Regions from separate parts of the Homo sapiens genome. Here region 1 is linked to region 2. The links come from fine-mapping of genetic effects on gene expression. A gene starts in region 2. The other region holds a variant in brackets. All regions are shown on one strand. Distances are between the middles of the regions.

Region 1 (4,388 bases), 180 kb after region 2:
TCATTCCAGTTATGCTTTGATGGACTCACACACGAAAATGTCAAGGACAGTTTTCCTTACATAGAATAAGAAAATATCATGCTCTCTGCTCACCTACATGTAGGCACAGCTTGGCTTGGTCTTTCCACAGACGAGACCCCTATATAAGAAAAACCTAAAGCTGGGGCGTTGCTTCTCTTGCTTTCTGAGGGTGCCCTATCTGCAATGAAGTAGTTTTCAATAAACTTCCTTCTCTCACTGCACTCTGCAACTCGCCTGGAATTTCTTCCCACGAGAGATCCAAAGCCCTCTCTTGGGGTCTTGATTGAGACCCTTTTTCCAGTAACACTGAGGCTCCATTTCCAGTCATGGCAAAGCAGCTCATGTCAGTCCAACACACCACCTACATCCCCTGGACAGATACAGGCACCAACCACCAGAAGGTACCGGGCACAGCCGGAAGCAGAAAGAGACTGAACAGGCGTCCGTACTCGGAGGAAAGCCGTGGCGCCAGGCAGATTTCCTTTTGTAAGGCATTCCACTCGAGAGCAGCTGGCCCACGCAGGGGAGCAAAGCCTCGGGTAGGAAACCACCGTCCCTCCGGCATGAGGACCCAGAGAGCAACGGGGTGACTGTGGCAGCCAGGGAGGAAAGAGGAGTTCCTGGAAAGGACAGAGCCAGAGGGGACCCCAAAATCTGCATTTCACTCTGCCTAGATCTCCTGGAGACCTGGCCCACACGTGTGCAGGACTTTGTGCCGCCTGAAAAGAACCGATGAGCGGCACCAATGGTGCCACCGTAGGGGACAGAGCCTAGCGTCTGCCCGACTAAGCAAAACAGAAATCTGTCTGACAGCCTGGGGACCGGAAGTCTGAGGTCAGGCATCGGCAGGGTCAGTTCCTGCGGAGATGTGAAAGGGAATCTGCTCCCGGCCATGCCCCAGCAACCCTCTGTGTTGCTTTTGATGGGGTTCGGGACACGCTACCCCAAAGTATGGCACCTTGGCACTGTGAAAACAGCAGAAGCAGGAAGGTCTCTCTCACCTCCCCTCAGCCTTCTCCCCTACAGCAGGTCCCCAAGACCCTGATGTGAGACGCCCTCCCGAAACCCGGGGAAAAGACACGCCCTTCTCTCTGAAGATACAGGACACAGAGAACTGGTGTTGACAGCTGACGTGATGACAGTTCTCGTCTTCTCAGTTCAAAAGAATTTAAACAAGAGACACACTGCAAAAGAAGTGCAGCACAGAGTAACTTATTGCAAAAGAAGAAAAGTATTTTGCAGGGGCTCACGCCTGTAATCCTAGCATTTTAGGAGGCCGAGGTGGGCGGATTACTTGAGGTCAGGAGTTTGAGACCAGCCTGGCCAATATGGTGAAACCCCATCTCTAATAAAAATAGAAAAATTAGCCAAGCATGGTAGCAAGCGCCTGTAATCCCAGCTACTTGGGAGGCTGAGGCGGGAGAATCACTCAAATCCGGGAGGCAGAGGTTGCAGGGAGCCAAGATCATACCACTGCACTCCAGCCTGGGCAACAAGAGCAAAACTCTGTCTTTAAAAAAAAAAAAAAGAGTATTTTGAAAGTGAGGTGCAGAATAGACAGGCCACCCTAAGGGAGAAAGGACTCAGGGTGGGTCATGAGGGTGAGACAGCAGAGACCGGCCATAGGGAGGCTGCCTTTATGGGAGTCTCACCCGATGATCCATAAGAAGATGGGAGAGGTAGCCGGGCATGGGGGCTCATGCCTGTAATCTCAGCACTTTGGGAGGCCAAGGCGAGTGGATCATCTGAGGTCGGGAGTTCAAGACCAGCCTGACCAACATGGAGAAACCTCGTCTCTACTAAAAAAAAATACAAAATTAGCTGGGCATGGTGGC[G/A]CATGCCTATAATCCCAGCTACTCAGGAGGCTGAGGCAGGAGAATCGCTTGAACCTGGGAGGCAGAGGCTGTGGTGAGCTGAGATCTCACCACTGCACTCCAGACTGGGGATAGATCTAGACCCCACCTTAAAAAAAAAAGAAAGTGGGAGAGGTGTTATCAGGAAGCACAGTCTGGTGGTCGTCGGCACACATGCTTGTTTGTAGGTGGTGTGTCTCATTAGCATCTTACATCTCCACCCAGGGGTATCTTTTTCACTGTTATAATGAACAAAGGGTTGGTTCGAGGACAGGTAAAAATTAAAGTGTGCGTGCTCTTTAGAAGAGAGTCCCCGCTGGAGATAGCTTTGCTTGCGTGAGCTCAATTACAAAGCAAACACTGAGGTTTAGGTGGTGGCTGTGTATAGTCAACACAGTCATTTCCCTGCTCACCTATCCCCTCTCCCCCGGGCACACAGGCCGTGCTGAGGTGCCCAGTTCACCCATCACATCACAGCCTCCCGTCCTCATCCACGTTTCCCCACGGCCATCCCCTCTTCATCAAGCCAAAGCACAAACACACAGGTCCACCTGGCTCTGGGTCTTCATTTCCTTACGAAGGCTCCAAGTCACATAAAACTAAAATACATTTGTTCGCTTTTCTCTGGTGAATCCGTCTTGTTTCAGGAGCCTCAACCCTGAACCTTTTCTCTCTGCACTTGGAGTGTAGACGCGTCCCTTCTTCTCTCCCTCCGGCTTCACCGTACCTTCCCTGTGTGTCTGTGCACACATTTCCCCTTCTTAAAAGCATGCTGGTCATTGGATTTAGGGCCCACCCTAATCCATCATGAGGTCATCCTAATGCATAACATCTGCAATAACCCATTTCCAAAAATGTCTGTGTTCACAGGTTAGGGCTTGAACATATTTCCTAAGGACACTATTCAGCCCTCCACAAACACCAGCAGCAGACTAAGCCACGTTCAGGTCGTGTTGAGGTGGGAAATTAAAGAAAAATAAAATTAAAAAGAAAGAGAAATAAGCTTTCCCGTATTAGGCTAACTTGTCCTAGAGGCAGCAACAAGCACAGCCCAAACCCAGGAAAAGTCTTAATAATAATATTATCTAATGTGCTCTGGAGACTCTCCCAGCACTCCCTCAATATAGGGAGAAGAAAAACAAATTTTCCTTTGTTTTATGGAATGAGTTTATAAATTCCTGTTCTCTGTAACTATTGACTTCAAGCATTGTTTTATCTAAGCAGTAAAGTGAAGGTCATGAGCCTCTGAGCAGGCCTGAGTTACGGCCACCTGGGCAACATAGTGAAGGTTATGGGATAAGCCCGTGCCCAGGTTAACCTAGATAACGGACATGTGGGTTGCTTGGCAACAGTCATGTGCAATCCTGAGTTTGTCCTGCCTCTGTATCCCTGCTTTCACGCCACTGTAAGCTTGCTTCAAGCTAGCCCACCCCCTTTTGTGAAGTGTGTGTAAAAGTCAGGCGCTGTCTTTGTTCTGGGCCCAGTCTTTGGACATTGAGTCTGCTGGGTCTGAGTGCACTCAATGATAAAGATATCCTCCTGTGTACACTCCAAGGTCTCTCTCCGGTCCTCCTGATCCTGCAACAGTGCTAGGTCTCCCTAAAGGCCATCGGGCCCCTGGGTGGACCTTGGAGTCTTGCTCATTATCTCAGCCATGCTGTGCACATGACTGTAGTCCCAGCCTGGCCCACCCTGGGATGACAGGAGCTTCCCCCGGCGGTCCGTTTCCTGCACTGGCCCCCCCACAGGGATGTCTCCCAGGGCTGCCTGGACACGTCTTCACATTGGCTGAGGGGTCCCTCAAGGGCAACCAGACATGGCTTCTAGTCTAGTACCTGTTCTTCCCTCACAACATGAGTGAAGGATTTTAAACCTTCAAAGCCATATTTGCACTTACCTAACCCCTTAATCCTTTTCCTTCCGTCCCCCGTCCTGGAAGCCCCACTCAGTGTGTCAGGGGATTTCACCACCGAGGCACCTGTGGGCTGGGACCTGGGAGCTCTGCGTCCCCCTCCCCACACTCAGTTTCACTATGGCCAGATGCTGCCTCCGATGAAAGAAAGGGAGCCCATGGCAGAGCGTCGAGGGCGCCAGGGTGGCCACACAGGCCAGGAGACCAACCTCTAACCCTGATCTGACACAGGTCTAAGGGGAAGGTCATGAAGAAGAAACACAGCTCCTGAGAGACGTTTGGGGAGAACGAACCAGGACTAAACTAGAACTTACTCCGTGCAACCAGGGCCTCTCGGGAAACACTCAGGAAACCCTGGGCTGGCAGAACTAGTGGCGTCTTTGGGGACGGATCCCCGCAGGTTGGGAGTCCACGGTGCAGGGCCTGCATGGGGGACCAGACACGGCCACACCAGACGGGGCCCCTCTCAACGTTCAGCTGCTCAAGAAGGAGAAAAAGAGAAGGATTCTAAATGACGCACTGCCCTTCACACTTCAGGGTGAGGTTCCCGGCCCACTTTGTATTATGATTAAACACGCAGGTGTGCGCACACCCACAGCCCT
Region 2 (4,388 bases):
ATTTTTTCTTTACAATAATAATGGCAAACATTTATTAGAGCTTACTATAGGCTATGCATTACTCTAAACAATCTACATATGTTGTCTCATTTAATCCTCATGCTGTCCTCCAAGATAGAAAACATTATTCTTGTTTTACAAGTTTCATTATCTATTTTATAGATGAAGACACTGAGGCAAAGAGTTCAGTGGAGCTGGGATTCAAAATGATGGAGTCTCACTCCGGGATCCATGCTCCTACCCACTATGTTTATAATAGCAGTTCCTGAAAACCCTATTAAAACAGATGCCATTAAATTATAAGCCTTTTAACTTTTTTTTTTACCGTCTATTACAGATCACTAATATGATTTCAAGTAATGATGAATCTAAATATAAAGGCACTAAAACAAGGAAAACAAGACAGGAAAGAAAACTCTAATCCATTTTAAAAGACCACATGTGTTTCCCTATTTGTTTTGCTTAAAAGTGTGGACAAATTTGATCCAGAAAGGACATTTAAAAAAATGGCACACTGAGGGCTGAGAGTCAGAAATAAGATTTACTGTAAGGACTTACAGATAATCACAGATTCCTCATGGGAAAGGTAAACATGTAAAGACGAGGAGAAAACAGAATATGAAAGAGTAAACGTCTTTTTTGATTAGGGCCGGATGGTAAGGATTTGGAGGCAGCAAGAGACAGCTTCATAAGGGAAGAAATGGTTCTCTAGATTCTTTAGTCTTCAAAATGAGTTTGAATAGACCCAAGGACAGAGGTGGAATCTAATTGAGAAAAAGGTCAAATTGAGCTTACTGTGAGGGGAAGGATGCAAAATTAGTGTCTGCTGCAAGAAAAATAAGCATGGAAAGAAATTAAGGGAGGAGACAGAGACAGAGCCAGAGCCACAGACCAGGAGTAGGGAAAAAAAGGTAAGCAGCAGACGGGGCAGAGTGGCCTGGAGGAATGAGGGGTCACACCTAGCAGGTGCCCACCGGCGAAGAGGCAAGGGCCGAGCCCGGAGGGCAAACGCCGGCAGGAGTCGTCCCCGAAACACCTTGCCCAGCGAGGCGGACACAAGCTCGGGCCTGCAAGACGGCCCAGGAGGGTGGGGGCGGGAAGGGGTCGCAGAAGGTGGGCAGGGGAAGCGGCTGAGGACACGCGATGCACCTGTGGGCGGTCCCCGTGCCCACCTGACTCGCCCGCAGCTCCCTGAATGAACCCTCCACACCCGCCGGCCGCCCCCAGACCCCACCTGACGCGCCCGCGGCCCATCGTCCCTTCCTGACGCGCCCGCGGACCCAGACCTCAGCAGACGCGCACGCGGCAATCCCGTCCCCATCTGACGCGCCCGCGACAACCCCGTCCCCACCTGACGCGCCCGCGACAACCCCGTCCCCACCTGACGCGCCCGAGACCCCCGGTCCCCACCTGACGCGCCCGCGACCCCATGTCTTCCCCTGACGCGCCCGCCGCCCCCGGTCTTCACCTGACTCGCCCGTGGCCCATCGTCCCCACCTGACGCGCCCGCGATCCCCAATCTTCACCTAAGGCGCCTGCGGCGCCCAGTCTTCACCTGACGCGCCCGCGGCACCCCGTACCTACCTAGCGCGCCTGCAGCCCCCAGTCTTCACCTGACGCGCCCGCGTCCCCCAGTGCCCAACGGGCGCGCCTGCCACCTGGGCCGGCACCTGACGGCGACCAGGCGATTATTGCCGGAAGTGGGCCACCGCCTCTCGGCGCGCCTCAGGGAAGCCCCGCCCCTGGCCATGCTGATTGGCCGGCGCGGATTCGCGTGGCAGTGTTGCTGCCGGGTCCTGACGCCCGCAGCGTGCGCCTGCGTAGTAGGCACTGCCCCGCCGTCCGCGCGCGCCCAGAGTGCCGGGCGTGGAGGTGTGGGGGCGCGGGGGCGCGGGGGCGCGGGGGCGCGGGGGGGCGGGGGCGGGGGGGCGCAGGGACGGGCGCGGTCAGTGCCTGAGATCCCTGCGATCGCTGGGAGATGACGGTGAAGACCTGAGATTTAGGCCTGCGCGGCGGGTGACGACGCCGGTCCGGGTCTTCACTGGAGGACGCTGGCCGGGGCCTTCAGGTGTTCTCGTGGCCTGAGGACGCGCGTCCCTGAGAATGTGCGTGCCCGCGCCGCGCGGGTCCCACAGGAGCCTGGGCAGCCCCGCCGCCGCATTTCCACCCTGCGGCCGTATTTCCACCCGCTGGGCGCCAAGCCCGGGATGACTGCACTCTAGGGCATCACTGCGCGCTCACACTCAGCATTCAGGCACAAGCACGTTCTCTTTATAAACAGTTTCGAATCTTGTCGAGTCTTTCTAGAAGGTTGAAATGCCCTGGAGGAGCAGCGTGAATAGTTTTTTCCAATTAGGAAAAAAGAATGTGGGGCGGCTGGAGGGAGAGAGGCAGGCCGAGAAGGCCAGGTGCGTCCAGGAGCCGCAGCCCCCGTGCCTCAGTTTCCTCCTAGAAACATGGAGGTGGCGGTGCACGCTACAGGATTTCTGTAAGAACAGATGAGTTAACGTGTGCAAAACATTTAAAACAGTGTCTGGTGTGTAGCAAGCAAATATGAGTATTAGTCTTTTCCTTGTTAAAATGTGTGCATCTACATTTGGTGCACATTACAGGAAGTGTATAGTATGGATTCATATTTTGGAAAAGTAATTTTAGAAGTTATTTCTGATGTGCTTATTGTAATAGTGTTTCTTGACCACATGCTTTTAGATAATGTGAAGGCAATGAAGCAGGCAATATTGCTTGCACATCCCCAATTTAAACACCTGTCTGTCCCTCCTTCCCTCTCTCCTTTCTTTTCTTCCTTACCCTCTCTCTTTATTCCTTCCTTCATTCCCTTCAAGGTTGCGGATTATTCCATTATATAAATGTATCAATTTATTAGAATAGTTTCTATGATGTCTATGATGGGCTTTAGATTGTTTGCAATAGTTTGCCATTACAAATAATGCCCAGTAGTGCTGTGGTTTGATTTAACTTGTGAAGGTATATTTCCAAATAAATCGCTATGATTGGATTGTTGTGTAAACCAAAAAGTGTCTGAGGCAGATCACAACTGATATAGAGGTTTATTTTGCCAAAATTGTGGATTTGCCTGGGGAAAAAGAAACACAGGTTACAGTAGGATTTTTGGCCTGTACTTTTTTCCAAATATTTAAGGGAAAAGCGCCGGTAGGAGGGGAAAGAGGGGAGAGTAGGCTATGAGGCAAGTGGTCACATTTTTGTGAGGCTCTGATTAGAGTACAGCAAATCTACATTTCACATGTGAAAAGAAAGGTATGGGGGAGGGTTATACATCTGTCTCATACTCAGTAGATCTACATTTCACATAAGATAAAGTAAGCTTTTGGGAACAAAAAGAAGGCATGTATGTGTGTGTGTGTGTGTGTGTGCGTGTGTGTGTGTGTGTTGCCAATATTAACTTTTCCCTTTGGCATAGTAAGTTTGGAGGCCTGAGATTTTATTTTTCTTTCACTGATGTGTCAAGATTAACTGCATATGGAATACTAGTAGAAATTGCCAAGCCAAGACCCCACCACCACAATAGGGGACATAGTAATATTAAATTTAGCCCAATTGGCCAGCATCCACACAATTCCTAGTGAAAGAATTCCTGGCTGGATGGTAAAGAGGTAAACTAACTGCAGAAACTCACAAAGCAACAAAAGAAGTCCACAGAATAAGAGCAGGAATTCAGAGAGTAACCACAGAGAGATCCACAGAGTAACAGCAGGAATTCACAGAGTAACAGCAGAACCCACAGTGTAACATCAGAGCCCACAGAGTAACAGCAGAGCCCACAAAGTAACGTCAGAACCCACAGAGTAACAGCAGAGCCCACAGAGTAATGTCGGAACCCACAGAGTAACACAAGAGCCCAGAGAGTAACAGCAGGACACACAGAGAAATAGCAGGAACCCACAGAGTAACATCAGAGTCCACAGAGTAATATCAGAACCCACAGAGTAAAAACAGGACCCACAGTGTAACATCAGAGCCCACAGAGTAACAGCAGGAATTCACAGAGTAACATCAGAACCCATAGTGTAATAGCAGAGCCTACAGAGTAACAGCAGGAACCCACAGAGTAATAGCAGGAACTCAGAGTAACAGCAGAAACCTACAGAACAGGATCAGAAACCCATGGAGTAACAGCAGGAAGCCATGAAGCAGTTCTGTCCAACTTAGGTCAGCATATTCATGGTCTTGGGTCTTCTTTGTGTGTGCTTTCTACCAGGACTGGGCTTAGCTCTGTGCTTGTGAAGAGTAACCCACTCAGTGCCCTCTGAAATTTCGCCACTGGAGGAGGAGAAAAACCCCAGAGGGGCGGGGAGAAACGCTTTTCAAAACACATGGTGCAGCTGGAGATTGTGGTGCAGTTGCCCAGG

What was found. PIP is the estimated chance that this variant, and not a neighbour inherited with it, causes the effect.
Region 1: its variant is fine-mapped to the expression of LINC03100 in lung (GTEx, PIP above 0.99). The same link has a PIP of 0.9 or more in vagina and whole blood.

What each region holds. Positions count from the first base shown.
Region 1 is chr2:241,905,330-241,909,717 of GRCh38, reverse strand. All of the region lies in intron 2 of LINC01237 (long intergenic non-protein coding RNA 1237), which reads right to left. Among named protein-coding and RNA genes, the nearest start is that of FAM240C, 7.1 kb to the right of the region's middle. The variant G/A (reference allele first, on the strand shown) is at 1,857.
Region 2 is chr2:242,085,998-242,090,385 of GRCh38, reverse strand. It overlaps LINC03100 (long intergenic non-protein coding RNA 3100), which reads left to right and starts at 1,821. Exons shown (of 1, transcript NR_186294.1): 1 at 1,821-3,035. It overlaps LINC01881 (long intergenic non-protein coding RNA 1881), which reads right to left and starts at 1,753. Exons shown (of 7, transcript NR_130702.1): 1 at 1,585-1,753.